7 linked regions of the Homo sapiens genome follow. The protein of the gene in region 2 purifies or fractionates together with the protein of the main gene of each other region. This does not show direct contact. Each region holds a gene or a part of one and is shown on either strand. Other genes may lie near its edges.

Region 1 (3,500 bases), on a different chromosome or scaffold from region 2:
AATCCCTGCTCTGCCAGTTGTTCTGTGGCTTCAAGCAGGTTAACTTCCCTGAGCCTTTGTATTTTCATGTGAGTATTGGCCGGGAATGGTGGCTCACGCCTATAATCCCAGCTTTTTGGGAGGCTGTGGTGGGCGGATCACCTGAAGTCAGGAGTTTGAGACCAGCCTGACCAACGTGGTGAAATCCTGTCTCTACTAAAAAATACAAAAATTACCCAGGTGTGGTGGCGCATGCCTGTAATCCCAGCTACTTGGGAGACTGAGGCAGGAGAATTGCTTGAACCTGGGAGGTGGAGGTTGCAGTGAGCCGAGATCACACCACTGCACTCCAGACTGGGCAACAAGAGCAAAACTCTGTCTCCAAAAAAAAAAAAAGTATTAATCTAATACCTACTTTTCAGGGTAGTTGTATTACTTGAGATGATGTATTTAAAACGCCCAGCATTTTGCTTTGGGAGGCTGAGGTGGGAGGATCATTTGAGGTTAGGAGTTTGAGACCAGCCTGGGCAAAAGAGTGAGACCCCTGTCTCTCCAAAAAATAAAAATCATCCAGGTGTGGTGGCATGCACCTGTAGTCCTAGCTGCTGGGAGGCTGAGGATGGAAGATCGCTTGAGCCCAAGAGTTTGAGGTTATAGCTTTGATCACTCCACTGCACTCCAGCCTGGGTGACAGAGGGAGACCCTGCCTCAGAGAAAAAAATGCCTAGCACAGTACTTAGAACACACAAAGACAATACATTGTAGTTGTCTTTTTTATAGCAATTATGAATCATACGTGGAGCTTGCTGGTCTAATCCAGCTTTTTAAAAAGGATTCAGATGGAATTGACTTTCATGTCATTGAGTAATGTCTTGTTCAGTTGATTCCTGTAGGTCTGCCATCACCAGGGAAATACAGTAATATTGTCGATTTTGGAGTTTAATTTAAATGCTCATGATCTGCAGGTCTGTGTACTACAGACTGTTGCAACTTTTTTTTTTTTTTTTTTTTGAGACTGAGTCCTGCTCTGTCACCTAGGCTGGAGTGCAGTGGCACGATCTCAGCTCACCTCTGCCTCCCAGGTTCAAGCAATTCTCCTGCCTCAGCCTCCCAAGTAGCTGGGATTACAGGCACCCGCCACCATGCCCAGCTTATTTTTGTATTTTTGGTAGAGACAGGGTTTTGCCATGTTGACCAGGCTGGTCTCGAACCCCTGACCTCAGGTAATCTGCCCATGTGAGCCTCCCAAAGTGCTGGGATTACAGGCGTGAGCCACCATGCCCAGCTGCAACTTTTTATCTTGTTTGCAGTTGGAGAAATTACTGTTTTTAACATTGTTTCTTTTCAATACCTGGAAATTTGATCAAATACATTGTCATTTCATTTCACCTTTTTTCTTGTTTTGAGTAATTTACTGTTTTACATTATAGAATTTGTTGTAGCATTTTATTTTAAAGCATTCTTAGCATATTTATAGGTATTCTTTAAATGAGTCACTACTGAAATACATGATTTTTATTTCTTTTGTTTTGTTCGGATTACCTTCCTATTACTGTTAACCATCCATAGTTTTGGATTGACTATCAGGGTGTACTTTTCGTTATCGTGGAAAAATTAGTTGACCCCATACACAGGCTTCTAATCATGTAGCTATTCTTTAAAGACTCAGATTAACAAGATTCAAAGGTTGTTAGATAACTTCTTGTTGGTTTTATGTGACCCTGGATTCTTTTGTGTGGCTGTATCTCTACTGTCATTATTATTTCATAGGGAATTTCATAGAGAATAGTAGTATCATATACTATTGCAGAGAGGATAGGAATATGCATTTTTGCAACCCTTATGAGGCCTTCTGACTTATTGTTTCTAGAAGATCAAATATTTTTTCCTGAAAGTCCTTTGAACCACATTAAATAGGCTAAGGATTAAATGCCAAAAAGGAGATAATTTTTTTTTTAATTTTCTGGTTTATGTTTAGGCATTATTTACCTTAGGCTGTATTTAAAAAGAACCATAATGGTAAGAAAACAGTATGATTTTAGAAACATGCATTCTATATTATTGGTTTCATTATACATTTCTGTGTGTGTGTGCACAAAAGAATGACTGCATAAAGCAAAGGTTCACATTTTTTTTAATTTTATAAATTCCAGGGAGAAACACATCTCATCTTTCCTAAAAAAGCTTCAGTGGAGCAGCTGCAAAAAATTCGTGACCTGATTGCCATAGAGAGAAGTAGCAGACTGGATGGCTCAAATAAGAGCCACAAAGTAAAGTCATCTCAGCAACCTGCAGCCAGTACCCAGCTTCCTACAACACCATCTTCAAATCCCAGTGGGTTAAACCAGCACACAAGGAACCGTCAAGGGCAGTCATCAGATCCACCATCTGCTTCAACGGTAATGTTAGAATTAAACCTTCTTTAACTGTTTCTTTCAAAGTGTTGAAACAGCAAAAGCTTTGGAATGTGTTATGATTTATTCCTGAATTTATGCCCCATATTTTGTTCTTAGTTCTTATAACTCTAAAACATCCAAATTTCTTCAGCTCTTTAAAAAATTGTCAGATTTCCTCTACTGCATTAATACTTCTGATCTAAATTGTACCTGCTGCCTTTCACTGTGGGGGTTATTTCCAACAGCACAACCATTATCAATACCTTAATTCAATAAAAAAGCTTCTTTAGGTTTAAGGTAATTAAGAATGCATTAATTTAATGATAGTGGATGCTAGCAAATTAGTGAAATTTTATTATTAATATACACCATATATACTTGTGAAGAACTAAAGTCAAACTTACAGGCATTCTTGATAAACTGAAATGATTCCATTTGATAGGAAATTATCCTGTTTACAAAAATCTCTTTTGACCAAGGTCCTTACATATTCTTCTCCTAAGTTTTTACTGTCAGAAAAATTCTTGTGATATTTCTGTAAGTCTAACAAGCACCTCAATGGATTTTTATGCCCCTCCCTGAGATCATGTGCATTCCATTTTGAATACCTTAGGTCTTCATCAGTTTTGCAGTTAAGGTTGGTACAGTTACAGAAGCTCACTTAACATCTTTCTTGGTTTTTAACACCTTTTCTTAGGAGTTTTCCAATTACAGTGTTAGAATATATCTTTTAAGATTTCCTACTTTATCTTTTTAATTGCAGTATTATAGTTTAAAATGCACATAGTTAACCAATCTGCAAAAAAGCTTGCAAACATTTTATTTTACAAAATATCTCTTTCCTGGGCTAAGTAGTATTTTGTTAGTGTCCTGGCTCAGGAAAGCCATTCACATTTTCTTAATCTTGTTTAAACTTCTTTTCTTTTGTTTTGTTTTTTTCTTTTTTTGAGACAGAGTCTCATTCTGTCCAGGCTGTAGTACAGTGGCAAAATCTTGGCTCACTGCAACCTCTGCCTCCCAGGTTGAAGTGATTCTCGTGCCTCAGCCTCCTGAGTTTCTGGAAATAAAGGCATGCACCATCTCTCCTGGCTAATTTTTGTTTTTTCTTCTTTTTGAGACGGAGTT
Region 2 (2,690 bases):
AGAGGTGTCTGGAATAGATTCTTCCCTACAGACTTCAGTGAGGTCAAGTCCTTTTCAATAAATTGATCTCAGACTTCTAGCTTCCAGAACTGTGAGACAATAAATTTCTTTTCTTAAGTGCCTAAGTTTGTGATATCTTGTTATGAAAGACATAAGAAGTGAATATGCTATTTTTATTATTTTAACATTATTTCTTGTCACCAATCAAATTAAACCCAAACAAGAATATCCCAAGAAAAATTATAATAAACTCTCAAAGAGCAGACAAATAGAGCGTCCTGAAAGCACCAAGAAAAAAAGAAGCAAATAATATATAAGGGAGATCCAATATGCCTGGAAGCAGACTTGTAGCTGAAAATGTGCAGGCCAGAAAGGATTGAGATGATATATGCAGAATGCTGAAGGAAAAAAAAAAAGACTGCTGTCCAAGAATACTCTACCCAGAAAAGCTATATTTCAGAAATGAGTTGAGATAAAAAGACTTTCCCAGGCAAAAAAAAAAAATGCTGAGGGAATTCATCACTATCTCCTACAAGAAATGCTAAATGGAGTTTTTTGAACTTAAAGAAAAGGGCATTAATGTGATTGTTACTCTAGTACTGTAATTGTGGCATGTAAACCACTTACTTATATCTTTAGTATGAAAACTAAAAAAAACCTATCAAAAATAATAACTACAATAATTTGTTAAGAGGTGGGCAAAATAAAAGTGTAAATCATGACAAAAATCAAAACGTGGAAGGAGAGTTGAATTGTACCAGATTATTCTGTTTCTTCTCTTTTCTTTGTGATCAGTGTCAAGTTGCTATCATTTAAAATAACTTGTTATAATTATATAATTTTGTATAAGCCTTGTGGTAACTGCAAAGCAAAAACCTATAATAGATATGCTAAAATTAAAACACAAAGAATCAAAATATACTACTAGAGAAAACCACAAATAAAAACTGTAAAAGTGAAAGCAGGGGAAAAAAATGTACAAAACAAGTAGAAAATCGGTAACAAAATGGCAGTGTTAAGCCCTTACCTATTAATAATTACCTTGAATGTAAATGGACTAAATTCTGCAATTAAAGACGTAGAATGATTGAATGGATTTTTTTTAACTTAATTATATGCTGCCTATAAGAGACTCATTTCAACTATAAGGACACACGTAGACTTGAATTGAACAAAAGGAAAAAGTATTTCATGCAAATGAAAACTAAAAAAGACTAGGAGTAGCTATGCTTATATCAGATAAAATAAACATTATGGTCTTGTTTCTTTTTGCAGTTTTTTTTTTTTTTTGCCAGAAACTGCAAAAAGAGATAAGACCATATATAATACTTAAGGGGTCAATACAGCAATAGGATAAAACAATTATAAATATATATGCCCCAACATCAGAGCACCTAAATATATGGAGCAAATATTAATAGACCTAAATGGAGTGATAGTCTGCATAAAATAATAATAGGAGACTTTCAGCAATGGACAGATCATCCAGATAGAAAATCAACAAAGAAATATTAAAATTAAATCACATCCTAGATCCAACATTTACAGAACATTTCATCCAACAGCTACACAAGACAAATTCTTCTCAGAAGCACACAGAACATTTTTCAGGTTAAATCCTATGTTAGGCCACAAAACAAAACTCAACAATTTTTTTTAAAATCAAAATAATTTCAAATATCTTTTCTGATCACAATGCAATAGAACTAGAAATTAGTAACAGAAAGAAAGAACTTTGGAAAACTTACAAATACATGGAAATTAAACAACATGCTCCTAAACAGTCATTGGGTGAATGAAGAAATAAAAACAAAATTTAAAAATTTCCTGAGACAAAAGAAAATGGAAACACAACATACCAAAACCTATGGGATACAGCAAAAGCCATTCTAAGAGGGAAGTTTATAGCATTAAATATCTACATCAAAAAAATTTAAAGATCTCAAATAAACAACCTGATATTAAACCTAAAGGAACTAGAAAAACAAAAACAAACTAAAACCAAAATTAGTAGAAGGAAATAATAAATATCAGAGCAAAAATAAATAAAAAAGACAAAAATACAAAAGATTAGGAAAATTTGTTTGTTTTTTGAAAAGACAAACAACATCAACAAGCCTTAGCCAGACTAAGAAAAAAGAGAGATGACTCAAATAAAATTAGAGATGGCAGAGGAGACATCACCACTGATATCACAAAAAGGATCCTTAGAGACTGTTATGAACAAATACAAACCAAAAAATTAAAAAACAGAAAAAAAAAACAAACAGAAAAATCCCTAGACACATACAAACCTACTAAGACTGAATCATGGAGAAGTAGAAAACCTCAACAGGCCAATAAAAAGATAAGGAAATTGAATCAATAATAAAAAGTCTCCCATTAAAGAAAAGCCCAGGACTTGATGCCTTCACAGGTGAATTCTACTAAACATTTAAAGAAGGAATTCTAAAATAGCAAAAATATACAAATGGAATTATATCAAACTAAAGAGGCTTTATGCCGCAAAGAAAACAATCAATGAAGTGAAGAGACAGCCTGCAGAGTGAAATAAAATATTCACAAACTACGCGTCTAACAAGGGACTAATAACTAAAACACAAGAGGAGCTCAAGAGTAAAAAACAAAGTGTGATTTGAAAATGGGCAAAAGATCTGAATAGACATTTCATAAAAGAAGACACATGAATG
Region 3 (3,500 bases), on a different chromosome or scaffold from region 2:
TCAACCTCCCAAGTAGCTGGGACTACAGGCACATGCCACCATGCCCAGCTAACAACTTTTTTTTTCCTTTTTTTTCTTTTATGAGACAGGGTTTCACTCCCGTTGCCCAGGCTGGTATGCTCTCCCAGCCTCAAGCAGTCCTCCTGCCTCAGCCTCCTGAGTAGCTGGGACTAAGGCCACGCCTGGCTAATTTTTGTACTTTTAGTAGAGACAGGGTTTCACTATGTTGCACAGGCTGGTCTTGAACTCCTGACCTCAAGTGATCCACCTGCCTTGACTTCCCAAAGTGCTGGGATTACAGGCATGAGCCACCATACCCAGCCCTTTTTTTTTTTTTTTTTTTTTTTTCTTGAGACAGGGTCTCAGTCTGTCACACAGGCTAGAGTCCAGTGGTGTGATCCTAGCTCACTGCAGTCTCTTAAGTCTTGGGCTCAAGCAGTCCTCCCACCTCCACCTCCCAGGTAGCTGGGATTGCAGGCATGCACCACCATCATGCCTGGCTAATGTTTTTTTATTTTTAGTAGAGACAAGATCTCATTATGTTGCCCAGGCTGGTCTCGATCTTCTAAGCTCAAGCAATCCTCCTGCTTCGGCCTCCCAAAGTTCGGGGATTATAGGAGTGAGCCACTGTGCCTGGCCTTTTGTTTGTTTGTTTTTAATTTTTTGTAGAGATGGGATCTCTCCATGTTGCACAGGCTGGTCTCTAACTCTTGGGTTCAAGGGATCCTCTTGCCTTGGCCTCCCAAAGCATTTGGGTTAGAGGAATGAGCCTCCATACCTGGCCGTGTTTCTTAATTTCCAAACATAAAGGGAAATGTTTACATTTCTGGTTTGCATTTTAAATGGAATTCTAGGTTAATTACCTTGTGGTCAGAATACCTGCTGTCAATGATTTCAATCCTTTGAAATGTGTGAAAGTTAGCAATAAAATGGTCACACGGTTTTGTAACCTGCCTTTTATACTTTGCAACATTGTTGCTTTGGGATTTATTTTTAATTGCCCAGTTCGCTACAAATCCTGAATGGAAATAATTTTGCCTAAAATTCAAAATGATTGACTTTTCGTTTTGGGTTTTTGTTTTGTTTTGTGTTTGGTTTTGTTTTGTTTTTGAGATGGAGTCTCGCTCTGTCGCCCAGGCTAAAGTGCAGTGGCGTGATCTCGGCTCACTGCAACCTCCGTCTCCCAGGTTCAACTGATTCTCTTGCCTCAGCCTTCCAAGTAGCTGGGACTACAGACACACGTCACCATGCCTGGCTAATTTCTGTATTTTTAGCAGAGACGGGGTTTCACTATGTTGGCCAGGCTGGTCTCAAACTCCTGACCTCGTGATCTACCCACCTCAGCCTCCCAAAGTTCTAGGATTTCAGATGTGAGCCACCACGTCCGGCCATGACTGACTTTTTTAATTTGTCAGCATAAAACAGTGAATAAAAATTCTCCAGTGGAAAGTGTACTTGATTTTCCCTTTGACCCGAAATAGCTGCATCATTGCTTTCAGCCCTGCATTGCTGAAATAGATCACCACATGTTTATTCGCTCAAACAGGTCTGTCTTGTTTGGTTATATTACTTTAGCCAAGGTCAGCTACGTTTTTATTAAGCTGGTAAGTAAAGAAAGCCCATCTATTTGCATTGAGAACACTGCATAAAATCTAGCTGATTCTTGGTTTTTCTCTAGGCCCGAGGTATGAAGAAGCAAATCATTGACGACTTCATCACCCGAAACAAATATCTATTGGCAGCCAGGCTCACCAGCCAGAAGTTGTTCCATGAACTCTGCCCTGTGAAACGGTCGCATCGACAGAGGAAGTAAGGACTTAAGGCTTTGCCTCTGCTTGTTATTACAATAGAAGGATCATGATTCATTTTACTATAGGGTGACTAGACATCTGCCCTGTAACATTGAGAACTTATTCTTCATTTAACAAATACTGGGCCGGGCATGGTGGCTCATGCCTGTAATCCCAGCACTTTGGGAGGCCGAGGAGGGCGGATCATCTGAGGTCCGGAGTTCAAGACCAGCCTGACCAACATGGAGAAACCCCATCTCTACTAAAAATACAAAATTAGCCGGGCATGGTGGCTTATGCCTGTAATCCCAGCTACTAGGGAGGCTGAGGCAGGAGAATCACTTGAACCTGGGAGGCAGAGGTTGCGGTGAGCCGAGATCATGCCATTGCACTCCAGCCTGGGCAACAAGAGTGAAACTCTGTCTCAAAAAAAAAAAAAAAAAAAACACTGATTAGTGACTGTGATGGTAATCATACTAATATGATGTATTAGTCCAGGGCACTTTAGCACCAAATTGTCAGATGTGCCAGCCTGTCCTAGTGGTCAGAGAAGATTTCCCTAAGATGTAACATTTCAGCTGAGACCTGAAGGATGAGCACAGTTTAGCCAGGCGTCTGGGATAGACTGGGTCACTTTACAGAAGCACAGAATATGGAAGAGTGACTGTCCCTACTAAAGCATTCCACACAGGGTGAGTCTTTGGAGGTCTTGGGAAGGAGCAAGGATAACAATTAAACAGTAGGGAAGTACAGAGTATTGAGGAAATGGATTGGTGGGAATCGGGAAGGCTAAGTTACATGTATTCAATAAAGTAGGAAGAGTTATTATACAAAGTATCTAAAAAGTCTAGAAATTCAGGGAATGTATTCATTACACCTTCTCAGGTGAATGAATCAGTAGCTTTAAATTTAGGGCTGTTTCATCTGTAAAAGGTATCTGGATATGGAAGGAAAACATATCAATCATGTAACTTGAAAATATAAAACATAATTTCCCTGTGTGTCTAGGCTTTTCAGATTCCTTTATAGTCTTAAGAGCGAAGAAAAAAATGACTTAAATATAAAAAAAGAATATCCTGGACTGTAAGGATTGTTGTTTACACAGCCTTCAAAAAATATCCCAAATCCACACACTTCTCACTTTTTTTAACCACTGCCACCCTGGAACAAGCCACCATCGTCTCCCAGCGAGACCCCCCTGGCAGCCTTCTAACTAGTCTCTCTGCTCCATTCCACTCTTGTACCCTCCAGGCAGATGTCCACACGTCAGCCAATAATGTTTGAAAATGCAAATCAGATCCAGTCACTCCCCATCCTGGGGTCTTTGCACTTGTAGTCTCTCTACCTGGGATGCTCTGACCCCATTTCCTGTCATAACAATGTCACCTTTTCAGTTGGCACTTCCCTGACCAACCTGTCTGATGGAGCCTGGCTTCTACCCACTCTGGCCTCTCTCTGTCCCCTTTTCATCTTTTTTTTTTTTTTTAATATATAGCACTTGTTGATACCTGTCATAATATATCTGTTTTCTGTCTTCCCCACTGGAATATAAGCTCCATGAGGGCAATAATATTGTCTATATTACCTGACATATACTAAGTGCTCAGTAAATATTTTTGGGAGAATGAATAGCTAAACTTTCCATTGGAACCTTGCAAAGGAAGCCGTTCAGAATGAGGCTCAGTGGCCTCTGGCCTGAGAGAGATTTGA
Region 4 (3,500 bases), on a different chromosome or scaffold from region 2:
TTTCCTGAGCATGGCTGTGAGCCAGTTCCTTCCCGGTGTCAGGGCAGGGGCCTGGAGGAGGTGGTCTTGAAGTGCATGCCACAGATCTTCCTTCCCAGGGAGGGCGAGCTGGCACCATGGTGTGGCACAGACCCCGCGTCCCTTCAGATTCTGCCATGCCAGGCTGTTTGGCCTCAGGGAAGCAGCTTCCCTGACCAGTCCTTAGCACCTGGCACGTGGTGAGCCCTGTCCATGGCACCAGTCACCGTCACCATCAGTCAAGGGACTGCACCTTGGGGTGCTGGGTGCTGACGTCCTATGGGAGGGCTCCAGGGGTGCCGCCTGTCTGGTGCTCTGGGGGTCACCCAATGAATATGAGAGCCTTCCTGGGAGAGAGGGGTCTCGTTCAGCACCCCTCCTGAGGACCCAGCCCCACCCCAGGGTGTGAGGATGCAGGCCAAGGGGGCCTGAGGGAGCTGCAGTAGGGTCTCAGCACCTCCTCAGCCTCCTGGTTCCCCCCTACCCCCTGCGCACAGATATCCAGTTCTGGAACAGCCGGCAGTCCCTGGAGGGCCTGTCCGTGCGCTCCGTCTTCTTCGGCGTTTTCCAGTCATTCGTGGTCCTCCTCTACATCCTGGACAACGAGACCAACTTCGTGGTCCAGGTCAGCGTCTTCATTGGGGTCCTCATCGACCTCTGGAAGATCACCAAGGTCATGGACGTCCGGGTAAGGCTGGGGCGCCATGCTGTCTCGGGAGCTGCAGGGGTTGGGAGGGGGTAGTGTGGCCCAGCTGGACCCTGGAGCTGGCCCCCGGGGGATTCCCAGCAAGTGCCTCACTCCCAGGACTGAGGGGATTTTCTCACCAGGGGATTTTTTGGGTCACACATGGGGCAGGGGAACTGGGAACGGTGGGGAAGGGCAGGGGCTGGTTCTGGCTTGTGGGGTGGGAGCCAGCGTAGCAACTGACCATGGCACCCACCTCATCCACAGCTGGACCGAGAGCACAGGGTGGCAGGAATCTTCCCCCGCCTATCCTTCAAGGACAAGTCCACGTATATCGAGTCCTCGACCAAAGTGTATGATGATGTGAGTGTCCTGCACAGTGGGCCCCTGGGGGTGGTCTCCAGGTACCACGTATCCCTGAGGCACCCGGGGCCGGCCATCTGTCTGCCGGACCCATGCTTTACAGCCTGTGCCACATCCTCTGTGTCCCCCATCTGCCATAACTGCTTCCCTGGGCGAGTCCGGAGTCCCCAGGGCTACCTGGAAATTCCCCCTGCCCGGCCTGCCAGACCAGGTGTGGTGGGTGAGGGCGGGGAGCAGGGCTGCCAGGCAGGGCTGAGGAGCTGGCTGACAGCCCCACCCTGTGGCCCCACAGATGGCATTCCGGTACCTGTCCTGGATCCTCTTCCCGCTCCTGGGCTGCTATGCCGTCTACAGTCTTCTGTACCTGGAGCACAAGGGCTGGTACTCCTGGGTGCTCAGCATGCTCTACGGCTTCCTGCTGACCTTCGGTGAGCGGTCCGGCCGCCCCAGGAGAGAGCAGGCCCCATGCTGCGCAGGGCTCACAGCCCCAGTGTAGGAGACAGACCCATCCCCAGACAGGGACAACCTAGGGTGGGCAGAGCTGGGATATAGGGAGGCCCGAGGGCACACATGGCCCCATCTGGGGTCAGAGAGGACTTCAGGGAGGACATGAACAGTACGCTTCAGTCCTCATTCTCAGGGGGCCTTTGTGTCTTGGGAACAAGTAAACAAGTAGGGCCAGGTGCAGTGGCTCACACCTGTTATCCCAATGCTTTGGGAGGCTGAGGCAGGAGGATCACTTGAGCCCAGGAATTCGTGACCAGCCTGGGCAACTTGGCAAGACCCGATCTCTACAAAAAAACACAGAAATTATTGGGGAGTGGTGGTGCGTGCCTGTAGTCCCAGCTACCTGGGAGGCTGAGGTGGGAGGATCCCTTGAGTCCAGGAGGTTGAAGCTGCAGTGAGCCATGATTACGCCACTGCACTCCAGCCTGGGTGACAGAGTGAGACCCTGTCTCAAAAAACAAAAGACCGGGTGAATCACAGCCAATAGTGAGTACTGTGAAGGGCAGAGTGGTGGGAGGATGCACATTAATAGGGGTCCGGGGGCCCCTCTGAGGACAGGACATTTAAACAGAGGCCTCAGATATCCAGGGAGAGAGCTGTGCGGATGTGACAGAAGGCCCCACCAGTGCAGAGGCCGCTGGTAGAGTGTGCCCAGGTATAGGAAGTGGTAGAGTGTGCCCAGGTGTAGGAAGTGGTGAGGGGGCTGGTATGGCCAGTGCAGAGTGCACAGGGGAGAGGTGGGAGAGGCCATCCCTCTGCTCATGGGTGCTCTCACTGCAGGCTTCATCACCATGACGCCCCAGCTCTTCATCAACTACAAGCTCAAGTCTGTGGCCCACCTTCCCTGGCGCATGCTCACCTACAAGGCCCTCAACACATTCATCGACGACCTGTTCGCCTTTGTCATCAAGATGCCCGTTATGTACCGGATCGGCTGCCTGCGGGACGGTGAGGCCCGGTGGGCAGGTGGGAGCTCCCACCGGAACAGGGCCCTGAGGCAGTCTTTAGGGCCCAGGCCTGAGGGGGTGCCACGGCCCCAGATGGGGTGCTCAGTCTGAGGGGGCTCGGCCCCGCCCTTGCATCACGCCCTCTCCACCCAGGCCCACCTGGCTGTGGACGGGCCAGCCCGACCTCACACTGCCTCCCACCCCTCTCCAGATGTGGTTTTCTTCATCTACCTCTACCAACGGTGGATCTACCGCGTCGACCCCACCCGAGTCAACGAGTTTGGCATGAGTGGAGAAGACCCCACAGCTGCCGCCCCCGTGGCCGAGGTTCCCACAGCAGCAGGGGCCCTCACGCCCACACCTGCACCCACCACGACCACCGCCACCAGGGAGGAGGCCTCCACGTCCCTGCCCACCAAGCCCACCCAGGGGGCCAGCTCTGCCAGCGAGCCCCAGGAAGCCCCTCCAAAGCCAGCAGAGGACAAGAAAAAGGATTAGTCGAGACTGGTCCTCACCTGCTCCGGCTCCTGGCGACCACTACCCCTGCGTCCCGGCCCCCTCGCCTCCCCTCCCTGTCGCCCTTTCCCTGGACAGATCAGGCCGGGGCGGTGGGAGGCCCGCCTCAGGTCAGGGCCCAGCGTGTGATGTAGGGGCCGGGGCAGGCCAGGGTTTGTTTGTGGAGGCGCTGTCTGTCCCTCTGTCCCTCTGTGTTTCCAGCCATCTCGCCCTGCCAGCCCAGCACCACTGGGAATCATGGTGAAGCTGATGCAGCGTTGCCGAGGGGGTGGGTTGGGCGGGGGTGGGGCCGGGCCCCCCTACGGGATGCCCACGGCCGTTCATCATCTTGTCCCTCGTCCCCCTACCACACTCCCCCTCCTAGACCGCCGCCCTTTAACACAGTCTGGATTTAATAAATTCATATGGGTGTTTAACTTAAACTCAGCACTGCCCCTCCTCCTCGTGCCTTCCTTCCTCTGTTG
Region 5 (3,500 bases), 1.5 Mb from region 2:
AGGCCCAGCCCTGGGCCCTGACTTTGGCAGCTCCTCCGGGCCTCTCCCAGGGCCTTGCTCATTTTGCATAGGCGGCTGAGGCTCTGGTGGGGACTGATCACCCCACCCAGAGCCAGCAAAGCTGGTCACCACTGCAACCCTGGGCTCCTCCCTGCCCGCACCCTGGGCCTCCTCCCTGCCTGCCCCCCCACCCCAGCCCTCCTCCCTGCCTGCCCCCAGGGCCTCCTCCCTGCCTCCCCAGGGACTTCTCCCTGCCTCCCCAGGGACTTCTCCCTGCCTCCCCAGGGCCCTGGAATAGCACGTCTCTTTTCCCTGAAAATACTCTTGACCTGATCCTCTGCTACCATCCCTTTTCGGCTCGGCTAGTGGGTCACAGGCATTTTTTAAGAAACCGTGGGCCCAGTTTTCTCCTGCACGAAGTGTTGCTTTGTCAGTCTGTTCTAGACACAAATAGAACAAAGACCAAGCAAAGGACTTGATGCCAGCAATGCAGTAAGGAGATGATGGGAGACTGGCAGTTACCCTTGGGAGATCCTTACGTGTGGGGCTGAAAAGATTTCCAGGAGTGGTTAGCACTTTCTCCACCTTCCCCCGACCCTTTTTTTTTTTTTTTGAGATGGAGTCTCGCTCTGTCGCCAGGCTGGAATGCAGTGGCACGATCTCAGCTCACTGCAACCTTCCACCTCCCTGGCTAAAGCAATTCCCTGCCTCAACCTCCCAAGTAGCTGGGATTACGGGCGTGTGCCACCACACCTGGCTAATTTTTTTTTTTTTTTTTGTATTTTTAGTAGAGACGGGGTTTCACCATGTTGGCCAGTCTGATCTCAAACTTCTGGCCTCAGGCAATCCGCCGCCTCGGCCTCCCAAAGTGCTGGGATTACCGCACCCGGCCCCCTCTTCTTTTTAATTTTGAAATTTTCCCAACATCCTTAAATGTTGAAGGAACAAGCAAACACCTGTGTATCCTCAACCAAGATTCACTAGTCTTAACATTTTGCCACATTTGCGTTTTTCCTCTTTATATGTGTGCAGTTGCCTTTTGAAAATAAGCTGCGTCATTGTGTGATCACATCCCTAAGGTCTTCAACATTTCCGGAGAAAAAAGGAAGAGATGCTCTAACATCATCACAGTACCTTTGTCACATTTAAGAAAATTAATAGTAATTCCTTGATATGATCAAATATCTGGTCCATATTCATTTTTTCTCATTCAACTCCCGAAAAACCTGGTATAACTTCTTTTTTCCTTCAAGTGAGAGCCTGTCACATTAAAGAATTGCAGGATGTTGTTTTGTTTGTTTGTTTGTTTGTTTTTTGAGTCAAAGTCTCACTCTGTCGCCCAGGCTGGAGTGCAGTGGTGCAATCTTGGCTCACTGCAACCTCCACCTCCTGGTTTCAAAGGATTCTCATGCCTCAGCCTCCTGAGCAGCTGGGATTACAGGCGTGCGCCGCTACACCTGGCTAATTTTTGTATTTTCAGTAGAGGTGGGATTTCACCATGTTGCCCAGGCCGATCTCAAACTCCTAACTTCAGGTGATCGCCCTGCCTCGGCTTCCCAAAGTGCTGGGATTACAGGCATGAGCCACTGTGCCCGGCCTGTTTGTTTTTTGAGACAGGGTCTCACTCTCTTGCCCAGGCTGGAGTGCAGTGGCACCATCATTGCTTATTGTATCTTCCTGCCTCAGCCTCCCGAGTAACTGGAGTTATTGGTGCAGGCCACCATGCCTGGCTAATTTTGTTTATTCTTAGTAGAGACAGGGGTCTTGCTATGTTACTCAGGCTGGTCTTGAACTCCTGGCCTCAAGTGATCCTCCTGCCTCTGCCTCCCAAAGTGCTGGGATTACAGGCATGAGCCCCTGCGACCAGTCAAGAGTTGCAGTTTTTATATCATTTTAGTCTCTTTTAATCTAGACCATGCTTCCGTACTTTTGTTTTTTCCACAAACTTGTATGTTTTTCCCCAGCTATATTGATTTTTCTGATTGTTTCTCATGGTGGAGTTTGACTGGTTTGCCAATCCTACCAATGTCTGGAAGCTTGATTTGATGCAGATTACACAGTGTTCACCACTGGGACATTCTATTGCATCCCCTCAGGGGAGCCTGGTGCTGGCTCATCTCTAATAGAAATACTAGATTTTTTATGAGATAATTCATGTAATATGCATAATATGTATAGAAAAAAGCTGGAAGGAAAAATGCTAAAATATTAGCAATAATGACCACTTTCTGGGTGATATTTATTTTCCTCTTTATTCTGCTGTGCCTTTTCTAACTTGGCCAAAACTCAGCACGTTTTTACTTTATAATTGGGAAAAAAAGATTAAAATGTGTATCATTATAGCAGTGTTAGAGTTTGGAAAGTAATGAAAATAAAGCAAGGCATAATCCAGCTACCTTAACATGTGCAATAATAGCCTAGATCCTCCTAGGCTTTTTTTCAGGAACGCTTTTTACATAATTCTGTGTTTATTTTTTTATTTACTTCATCACAGCACATTTCCAGTGCCAAGGTAGTATTCGGTCTTGTCCTTTTCATTGACCACCCTGGACATGTAGGTGAGGAACTAGTAAGAGATGGTGGGTGGTGTGGTTTGTGCACCATGCAAGGCACTCAGCTCACGAGCAGTCGAGGCTCAAGTCCTCCCTGAGCCCCGTGTCTGCCTGGTGCGCCTTCCTGGAGGGTCACCATTTCCCGACCTGCCCAAAGGCAGCCTATGCATCTATTCACAAACCCCTGGGGAGTGTAGCATGCCTGCACCAGCACAGAAGCCCAGGTGGCTGTTGCCATTGGCGTTGGGCACTGAGGGCTCTGTCCTGGAAAAATGCTGGAGACGGCATTTGGGGCCAGATCACAGGAGACCCCGTTTGGTGTCTGGGTGCACACATGGAGCTGTTGCTGGTGAGCACTGTCCTCCTTGGGGCCCAAGAGCAGACAGAGTTCAGGTCTTAGCCTCATCACTGCCCTCTGCTCTCCAGGATGCCTTCCGCGCCTTCCACCCTGACCTGGAATTCGTGGGCAAGTTCTTGAAACCCCTGCTGATTGGTGAACTGGCCCCGGAGGAGCCCAGCCAGGACCACGGCAAGAACGTAAGTCTGGCTTGCAACCTGGGTGGGGGTGGAGACGAGGCTGGGGGTGGCTGGGAGTCTGAGAGAGGCTCCCCTTGCCCCATGACCAGTAACTGGGGCTGAGGCAGGGGTGCTTTTGTCCTGGAGGAGCCACTGTGGTTCACCTGTGTTCAGGGAGGGCCTCAGAGCCTCCCTGGGAGCCGGGGTTTGACAACAACTAGTGGCGTCTCCTCTCTCCTGGCCAGTTTCATTTTCCTTCTCCTCCATCCCTTTCCAGGAAGGTGCCAGATGACAATCTAGGGGAAAGACAGGACAGAAACACCGAAAAATGTCATTTGATGACAAGAGTGGCTTTGGGGTGTGTGGTCCGGGGCACCTCTTTGAGAAAGAATGACCATTCCCTGGTCATCTGTTCATTGTCTGCAGGTCAGA
Region 6 (3,500 bases), on a different chromosome or scaffold from region 2:
ACGGGGCGGCTGTCCGGGCAGAGGGGCTCCTCACTTCCCAGTAGGGGCGGCCGGGCAGAGGCGCCCCTCACCTCCCAGACGGGGCGGCTGGCCGGGCGGGGGGCTGACCCCCCCACCTCCCTCCCCGACGGGGCGGCTGGCCGGGCGGGGGGCTGCCCCCCCCACCTCCCTCCCGGACGGGGCGGCTGTCCGGGCAGAGGGGCTCCTCACTTCCCAGTAGGGGCGGCCGGGCAGAGGCGCCCCTCACCTCCCAGACGGGGTGGCTGGCCAGGCGGGGGGCTGACCCCCCCACCTCCCTCCCGGACGGGGCGGCTGGCCGGGCGGGGGGCTGACCCCCCCCACCTCCCTCCCCGACGGGGCGGCTGGCCTGGCCGGGGCTGACCCCCACCTCTCTCCCGGACGGGGTGGCTGCCGGGCGGAGACGCTCCTCACTTCCCAGACGGGGTGGCTGCCGGGCGGAGGGGCTCCTCACTTCTCAGACGGGGCGGCCGGGCAGAGACGCTCCTCACCTCCCAGACGGGGCGGCGGGGCAGAGGTGCTCCCCACATCTCAGACGATGGGCGGCCGGGTAGAGACGCTCCTCACTTCCTAGATGGGATGGCGGCCGGGAAGAGGCGCTCCTCACTTCCTAGATGGGATGGCGGCCGGGCAGAGACGCTCCTCACTTTCCAGACTGGGCAGCCAGCAAAATTTTAACTTTTATATCTGTTTTACCACAATAAAAATACAAAGAAAAGTTGGAATTAATATTTGTTTTACCTATCTCATAAGGTCATTGTGAAGGGGAAATAAGATTAGGATGTTTGAGATGTCATTGGGATTATCTTTAAAAATCTGAAAAATGTTTAAGCAGACTCAAAAATAGGCCTTTGAGTAGCTCTTTTTTTTTTTTTTTTTTTTTTGTATGTCCCCTTATATGTTTTTTATGCAGCCAGAAGTTGGGTGAAACAATGATTTAAATAAACTAATATTTCAAACCTAGTCATATTTAGCAGCAGTTGCCATAAATTACTTTGCATAGTTGCTATGAAGTAAGTTGATGATTAAAATTAAGCTCAGAAATGCATATTTTTGAGTTTATACCTAAGTTGTTTTTCAGTTACAACTTTGTCTTATTCAATAACATAAAAATGAACATTTGTTAGCCTTTCATTCTAGTTTACGTATATAATTTTAAAAAATCTTACTAAACGTGATCCTGAAATTTCTTATAGGCAGTTTTCTGTTATCTTAATGAGAATATGTTTTCTTATAAGCACAAAAAAATTCAAGTACCTTTCGTGCCACTGTTGGGAGGAATTTTTACTATGAGAGACTTGAGCTCAGAGAACATACATATATAGTTTTCCTTTGGTGTGTGCATTATGATTTTGTTTAGGACATTAAAAATAGGCAGTGTAAACATAACAAATTTGCTAAGGAAGAGACCCGAACAAATTTTACTCTTGTTTATTGTTCTTTTTTAAATCCCCATCTAGATTTGGAGGTTGATATGTGGAAGAATAATTTGCCTTGATTTGAAAGATACTTTCTGCAGTAGTCTGCTTATTTATAATTTTAGGATATTTGAAAGAAGATATGGAAGCAGAAAATTTGCAGTAAGTTTTTATGTATTTTGTCTTTGCTACTTAGGCTGTAGAAAAAAATTTTGTTTAAATGGATTTTATTTTGTTAAACTTGGTGTTGTTATTTACAGTTATCTTTTTAATTACACTATTCTGTATCTGATTTGAGGCACATGGACATTAACCAAAGAAAATTTTAAAATGTAAGACATTAGCATAATAATAATAGTGATAATGATAATATGTAGTATTAGTTGTGAACACTAATACAAATTTTAATACTTTGACTTTAATAAAATTATAATTTATTTTGCTTAGTGGTTTGTGTTTTACTTGTTAAAAATATATCTTCAACATACTTAAAAATTATGGCTGTTAATACATTTGAGCAATATGGGTTTACCCCGCCCATTTTCTAAAGTCTATTTTAATAAAAACAAATAATTTCAAATATATATACACACATATGCATGTGTGTATATACACACACACACATACATATGAATACACACCTCTGAGCTGATTCTAGCTGAATAAATGTTAGTTTATTTTTAGGAGACTCATCTCTATCATTTTTCTGCTGTTTTATTTTGTAGTCCTTTTTGCTGGGTTCCTGGGTTTTGTCAGCCTTATTTGACTTTCTCCTCATTGAAGCTATGCAGTATTTCTTTGGCATCACTGCAGCTAGTAATTTGCCTTCTGGATTGTAAGTAGCACTTAAAGATTGACTTAATTTAGAACTACTTGAATCTGATTTAAAGTGTTATTATTATTATGTGAAAGTCAGTAAAATAATATTTTAAACTTCTAGATATAGTTAAATTGATTTTATATGTAAAAAGTCTAATCTATGCCTACATTTTTATTATGTTCTTGAAATAGAATCAATTTTATATTCTTTCTTTAAAATTTATTTTACTTTTTTTTTTTTTGAGACGGAGTCTCGCTCTGTCACCCAGGCTGGAGTGCATTGGCACGATCTCGGCTCACTACAACCTCCGCCTCCCGGGTTCAAGCGATTCTCCTGCCTCAGCCTCCCAAGTAGCTGGGACTACAGGCACGTGCCACCATGCCTGGCTAATTTTTGTATTTTTTAGTAGAGACAGGGTTTCACCATGTTGGCCAGGCTGGTCTTGAACTCCTGACCTCAGGTGATCCACCCGCCTCGGCCTCCCAAAGTGCTTGAGCCACTGTGTGAGCCACCTTGCCCAGGCACCTTCTTTTTTTAGCTTTGAAAGTTTGTGTTTTAGAGAATTTTAAGTGAATTTCCTATTCTGATCCTGATAGAATTAGTTTTGTGTGTTTTTATAGTGAAATTTGTCTTTGTAATTTTATGAACTAAACACAAAAATATAGTTTAATTAGATTAGGAAACAAAATTAATTTGTACGAAGTTAAGCTTCTGAAGAATAATTTTTTAAAAGCTGATAATGTTTAAACACTTCCATCAAACATAAAACAAAGCCGGTGTATAGGTTATAACTTTGTAGACAACCTGCCGTGGCCAACCCCACTCAGAATTTGTATGCTTTCATATTGCGTTGATCTTCTTTAAAAAAAACAAAAACCATGTATTAGTGTGTGAAATAACTAGAATCTAGGAGTAGAGTTGACAGAACGAGACTCCATCTCAAACAAACAAACAAAAAAACAGGCCGGGCGCGGTGGCTCATGCCACCTTTGGGAGGCCGAGGTGGGCGGATCACGAGGTCAGGAGTTCAAGACCAGCCTGGTCAATATGGTGAAACCCCATCTCTACTAGAAATACAAAAATTAGTTGGGCGTGGTGGCACGTAGTCCCAGCTGCTCAGGAGGCTGAGGCAGAAGAATCACTTGAACCCGGGAGGCAGAGGTTGCAGTGAGCGGAGATCGCTCCACTGCACTTCAGCCTGGGTGACAGAGTGAGACTCCGCCTCAAAAAACAAACAAAATACC
Region 7 (3,500 bases), on a different chromosome or scaffold from region 2:
TCTCCACTCGTTACACTGTTTATTAGTGTAGAAGGAGGCACCTTTTCCCCTATCACTATGCCATGGCTCACATACAGTCTTCTTTGATATCATAACCGTATTTTTGCGGCTTAGTCTCCTAACTGATCATCTTTATATATGCATAATGCTGTCCAGTTTATTATCTAGCACTTCTGAGAAGTGTATTACAAATGCATTACTGAGTTGGGAAAAAATAAAATTAGGATAGTGGTAAAATGTTATATCACAAGAAGGAAATGGATTTAATGAACTAAATGAGAGTATATCTGGTAGAGACCCATTTCAACATTAGAATTATCTGCTGTAGAACATTTTCTAGTTCAATTTTCTTAGACTTTCAGATGTTAGGCTGATTGTTTTATTTTTCTTTTGCCATGTGCATACCCTTACTTCTTAACTGAGTGATCTGGTTCTTAACAATAATACCTTATATTTGTATAAATCATTAAAATATATTATTTCATTCAACCCTATACAATAGGTTGTGGTATTTCTATTTTACACATATAGAAATCAATAGTCAGAGGTTAAACTGCTCAGCTCAGGTCACACACACCAACAAATGATGGAACTAAACCTTTTTGAGTGGCATCTTCAGGATGCCAATCCAGTGCATTTTCCACCACACAAGGATCCTCTTATATGAATGTCATCATGTGGCCAGAGCCTGGGTGTATAATTAATAGATTTGTATCTAAAACATTTGACTTGTAGGAGGGAGACAATATGGAGTTCTGTTAAAGATACATTTCCTACTACTATATTACCAAATTTGGAAATTCACATTGATGAAACCTTTTTAAGTATAAAAATTTTTTTAATAAAATGCCAAATCCTTTTCTTTCCTCTTTCCCTTTCTCTTTTGTTTCTTGTAATTTGACTATTTTTCTCTTACAGCATGTACAGAAGCATATTCCCAATCTGATGAGCAATATGCTTGCCATCTTGGTTGCCAGAATCAGCTGCCATTCGCTGAACTGAGACAAGAACAAGTACGAAACAATACTGCCTTTCAAACTAGCCTGCTTAGATGGCACTGACTTGTATTGCTTGAAGTGTTTATCACCCACTTGATCCTATTTTAGTGTTATATTTTATATTTGGCTTTCAGCAAACAAAATTAGTTTGCAAATAGAAAAGTCAGTTGAATAATTGCTTTTGTATAATGCTTTACTATTAAAAGTTATGCTTACGTTCATAATCTTATTTTGTTTCTTCTCACATTCCAGTGAAGATATTATCCTCATTTTACATATGAAAAAACCAAGGCTCAGAGGAATTATTTCAGAGTTCTTTTTCTCCATCCCAACTCCCATTGGACAGTTGCCATTGCCTTAACTCAGATAATCATTTCTTGTCTGTATTTTTAAATTAACTTCCAAACTGTTTTTCTAATTTAACCCTGTCTAACTCCATCCTTTGCTGTGTCCAGATTTTTTTTTCTAAATTTCATCATGCCATTCTCCTGTCTTATATAATCAGTAGCTCCCAATTACATATAGATTTAAGTCCAAACTGTTTATCACAACCTACTCCTGATTACTGCTCCAATGCCATCTCTTAAAATTCCTGACAAGGGAATTTCATACTCTATTCTCCAGACATACTGGGAAAAGTTTCTTAATTTTATTGATTTTTGCACAGGAAATAGTCACATGTACAAACTCAAAAGATAAAAAGAGTATACATATAGTGAAAAGTCTCCCACTCCTGTCTCTTAGCCACTCAGTTTTCCCTCTTGAATGTAGCCAAGGTTACTAATGCATAGATATGTTATGCGTATACAAGGATGTACACATATATTTTGTAAATATAAGTATACATAAAGAGCTTCTACTAATTTTTTTCTACTACATAATATTCTGTGTAGATATATTATAATTTTTTAGGCAGTCCCTTATTTGTGAACATGTAGGTTGTTCCTAATCTTTTTCTTTTGTAAATGATACCTATTTTGCACATTTGTGAGTATACCTGTAGAATAAAATCATAGGGCTAGAATTGCTGAGTTAAGAGGTATATGCATTTTTTATTTTTATGTTTTTTAGAGATGAGGATCTCACTATATTACCCAGGCTGGCCTCAAGCTTCTGGGCCCAAGTGCTACCATAGATACCACTGCACTCCAGCCTGGGTGACAGAGCGAGACACTGTCTCAAAAAAAAAAAAAAAAAACAGATGAAAAAAGAAACAAAGCAGAACCAAAGCTATCCCTAGAGTTTAGTAAATGGCATCCCACACTTGTGCTTTAGAGAGGCCCAGTGCTGCTAAAGAAGTCAAGAAATCAGAATTGGAGGAAAGATGATATCATTTGTCAAAATCCTTTTTTTTTTTTTTTTTTTGTGATGGAGTCTCGCTCTGTCGCCAGGCTGGAGTGCAGTGGCATGATCTTGGCTCACGGCAACCTCTGCCTCCCTGGCTTAAGGGATTCTCCTGCCTCAGCCTCCTGAGTAGCTGGGACTACAGGCGTGCGCCACCACGCCTAGCTAATTTTTGTGTATTTTTAGTAGAGATCGGGTTTCACCATGTTGCCCAGGATGGTCTCCATCTCTTGACCTCGTGATCCACCCGCCTCAGCCTCCCAAAGTGCTGGGATTACCGGTGTGAGCCACCACGCTGGGCCATTAAAATCTTATCAGTAGCTTACTACATATATTCAGCCCATAAATACTCCCTTCACCCTGTCGTGTTGTCAGATGTCTACCATTTTATGTATATATTCTTCTGATTGATTTTTTCCGTTCTCTTTTCCATTGATGTTCATTATAGCATGATTTATTCTTGATGAAAGCATTAAAGATGAGAATGATACGATTTGTCCCTTCCCGTTCTACCCTTAAGGCCTTGCTGGTCCTTATTTAATTACATCTTAAGAGTCTTCTTATTTTTGGACTTAATTCAAAAGCCTGTTATTCTGATAGAGGTGACAGGTAGCTAGTAAGTGTGTTTGGTGGCAAATTAAAGTATCCTTGGTTTTTAAGCTTTACCATAATGTGCATAGATAACTAAGAGTTTACTCTAATGCTATTGATTATGGTAGATGTATTTAATTGTTTGTATCCTGTCCCAATAAGGATTGGAGTAATCTTGATTATATTGTTCTTTTGAATATACATATATAAAAATAATATATTTCTCATTATTTATTTTATTTTTAGCTTATGTCCCTGATGCCAAAAATGCACCTACTCTTTCCTCTAACTCTGGTGAGGTCATTCTGGAGTGACATGATGGACTCCGCACAGAGCTTCATAACCTCTTCATGGACTTTTTATCTTCAAGCCGATGACGGAAAAATAGTTATATTCCAGGTGACAACTGAGCTTCATGGATTCATCTAAATACTAACAACAGTAAATGTATATGTCTTAAATGAGTGTTTCAGCATAGAACCATACTCAGTCACTTACAAATATTTATCATCAAATAATAATTACTTATTTGGCCCTACATTAAAATATTAGACATCAGTTTTATTA

The links.
Region 1: the proteins of SLC22A10 (region 2) and NGLY1 purify together in Homo sapiens (affinity purification with mass spectrometry; one large-scale study listed by BioGRID and IntAct). This does not show direct contact.
Region 3: the proteins of SLC22A10 (region 2) and DNAJC16 purify together in Homo sapiens (affinity purification with mass spectrometry; one large-scale study listed by BioGRID and IntAct). This does not show direct contact.
Region 4: the proteins of SLC22A10 (region 2) and CLPTM1 purify together in Homo sapiens (affinity purification with mass spectrometry; one large-scale study listed by BioGRID and IntAct). This does not show direct contact.
Region 5: the proteins of SLC22A10 (region 2) and FADS2 purify together in Homo sapiens (affinity purification with mass spectrometry; one large-scale study listed by BioGRID and IntAct). This does not show direct contact.
Region 6: the proteins of SLC22A10 (region 2) and UBAC2 purify together in Homo sapiens (affinity purification with mass spectrometry; one large-scale study listed by BioGRID and IntAct). This does not show direct contact.
Region 7: the proteins of SLC22A10 (region 2) and TMEM59 purify together in Homo sapiens (affinity purification with mass spectrometry; one large-scale study listed by BioGRID and IntAct). This does not show direct contact.

Annotation. Positions count from the first base shown.
Region 1 is NC_000003.12:25,762,944-25,766,443, reverse strand, and holds part of NGLY1 (peptide-N(4)-(N-acetyl-beta-glucosaminyl)asparagine amidase), read left to right. Parts: intron 1-2,132; coding exon 2,133-2,378; intron 2,379-3,500. UniProt on the Homo sapiens protein: Specifically deglycosylates the denatured form of N-linked glycoproteins in the cytoplasm and assists their proteasome-mediated degradation. Cleaves the beta-aspartyl-glucosamine (GlcNAc) of the glycan and the amide side chain of Asn, converting Asn to Asp.
Region 2 is NC_000011.10:63,306,903-63,309,592, reverse strand, and holds part of SLC22A10 (solute carrier family 22 member 10), read right to left. Parts: intron 1-2,690.
Region 3 is NC_000001.11:15,557,848-15,561,347, forward strand, and holds part of DNAJC16 (dnaJ homolog subfamily C member 16 isoform 1 precursor), read left to right. Parts: intron 1-1,678; coding exon 1,679-1,809; intron 1,810-3,500. UniProt on the Homo sapiens protein: Plays an important role in regulating the size of autophagosomes during the formation process.
Region 4 is NC_000019.10:44,989,880-44,993,379, forward strand, and holds the end of CLPTM1 (putative lipid scramblase CLPTM1), read left to right. Parts: intron 1-515; coding exon 516-706; intron 707-970; coding exon 971-1,066; intron 1,067-1,358; coding exon 1,359-1,494; intron 1,495-2,353; coding exon 2,354-2,521; intron 2,522-2,731; coding exon 2,732-3,018; 3' UTR 3,019-3,462; downstream 3,463-3,500. UniProt on the Homo sapiens protein: Involved in GABAergic but not glutamatergic transmission. Binds and traps GABAA receptors in the endoplasmic reticulum (ER).
Region 5 is NC_000011.10:61,834,800-61,838,299, forward strand, and holds part of FADS2 (acyl-CoA 6-desaturase), read left to right. Parts: intron 1-2,978; coding exon 2,979-3,089; intron 3,090-3,500. UniProt on the Homo sapiens protein: Involved in the biosynthesis of highly unsaturated fatty acids (HUFA) from the essential polyunsaturated fatty acids (PUFA) linoleic acid (LA) (18:2n-6) and alpha-linolenic acid (ALA) (18:3n-3) precursors, acting as a fatty acyl-coenzyme A (CoA) desaturase that introduces a cis double bond at carbon 6 of the fatty acyl chain.
Region 6 is NC_000013.11:99,242,354-99,245,853, forward strand, and holds part of UBAC2 (ubiquitin-associated domain-containing protein 2 isoform 1 precursor), read left to right. Parts: intron 1-1,478; coding exon 1,479-1,598; intron 1,599-2,161; coding exon 2,162-2,271; intron 2,272-3,500. UniProt on the Homo sapiens protein: Restricts trafficking of FAF2 from the endoplasmic reticulum to lipid droplets.
Region 7 is NC_000001.11:54,043,205-54,046,704, reverse strand, and holds part of TMEM59 (transmembrane protein 59 isoform 2 precursor), read left to right. Parts: intron 1-918; coding exon 919-1,013; coding exon of another isoform or gene 1,014-1,061; exon of another isoform or gene 1,062-1,222; intron 1,223-3,179; coding exon 3,180-3,332; intron 3,333-3,500.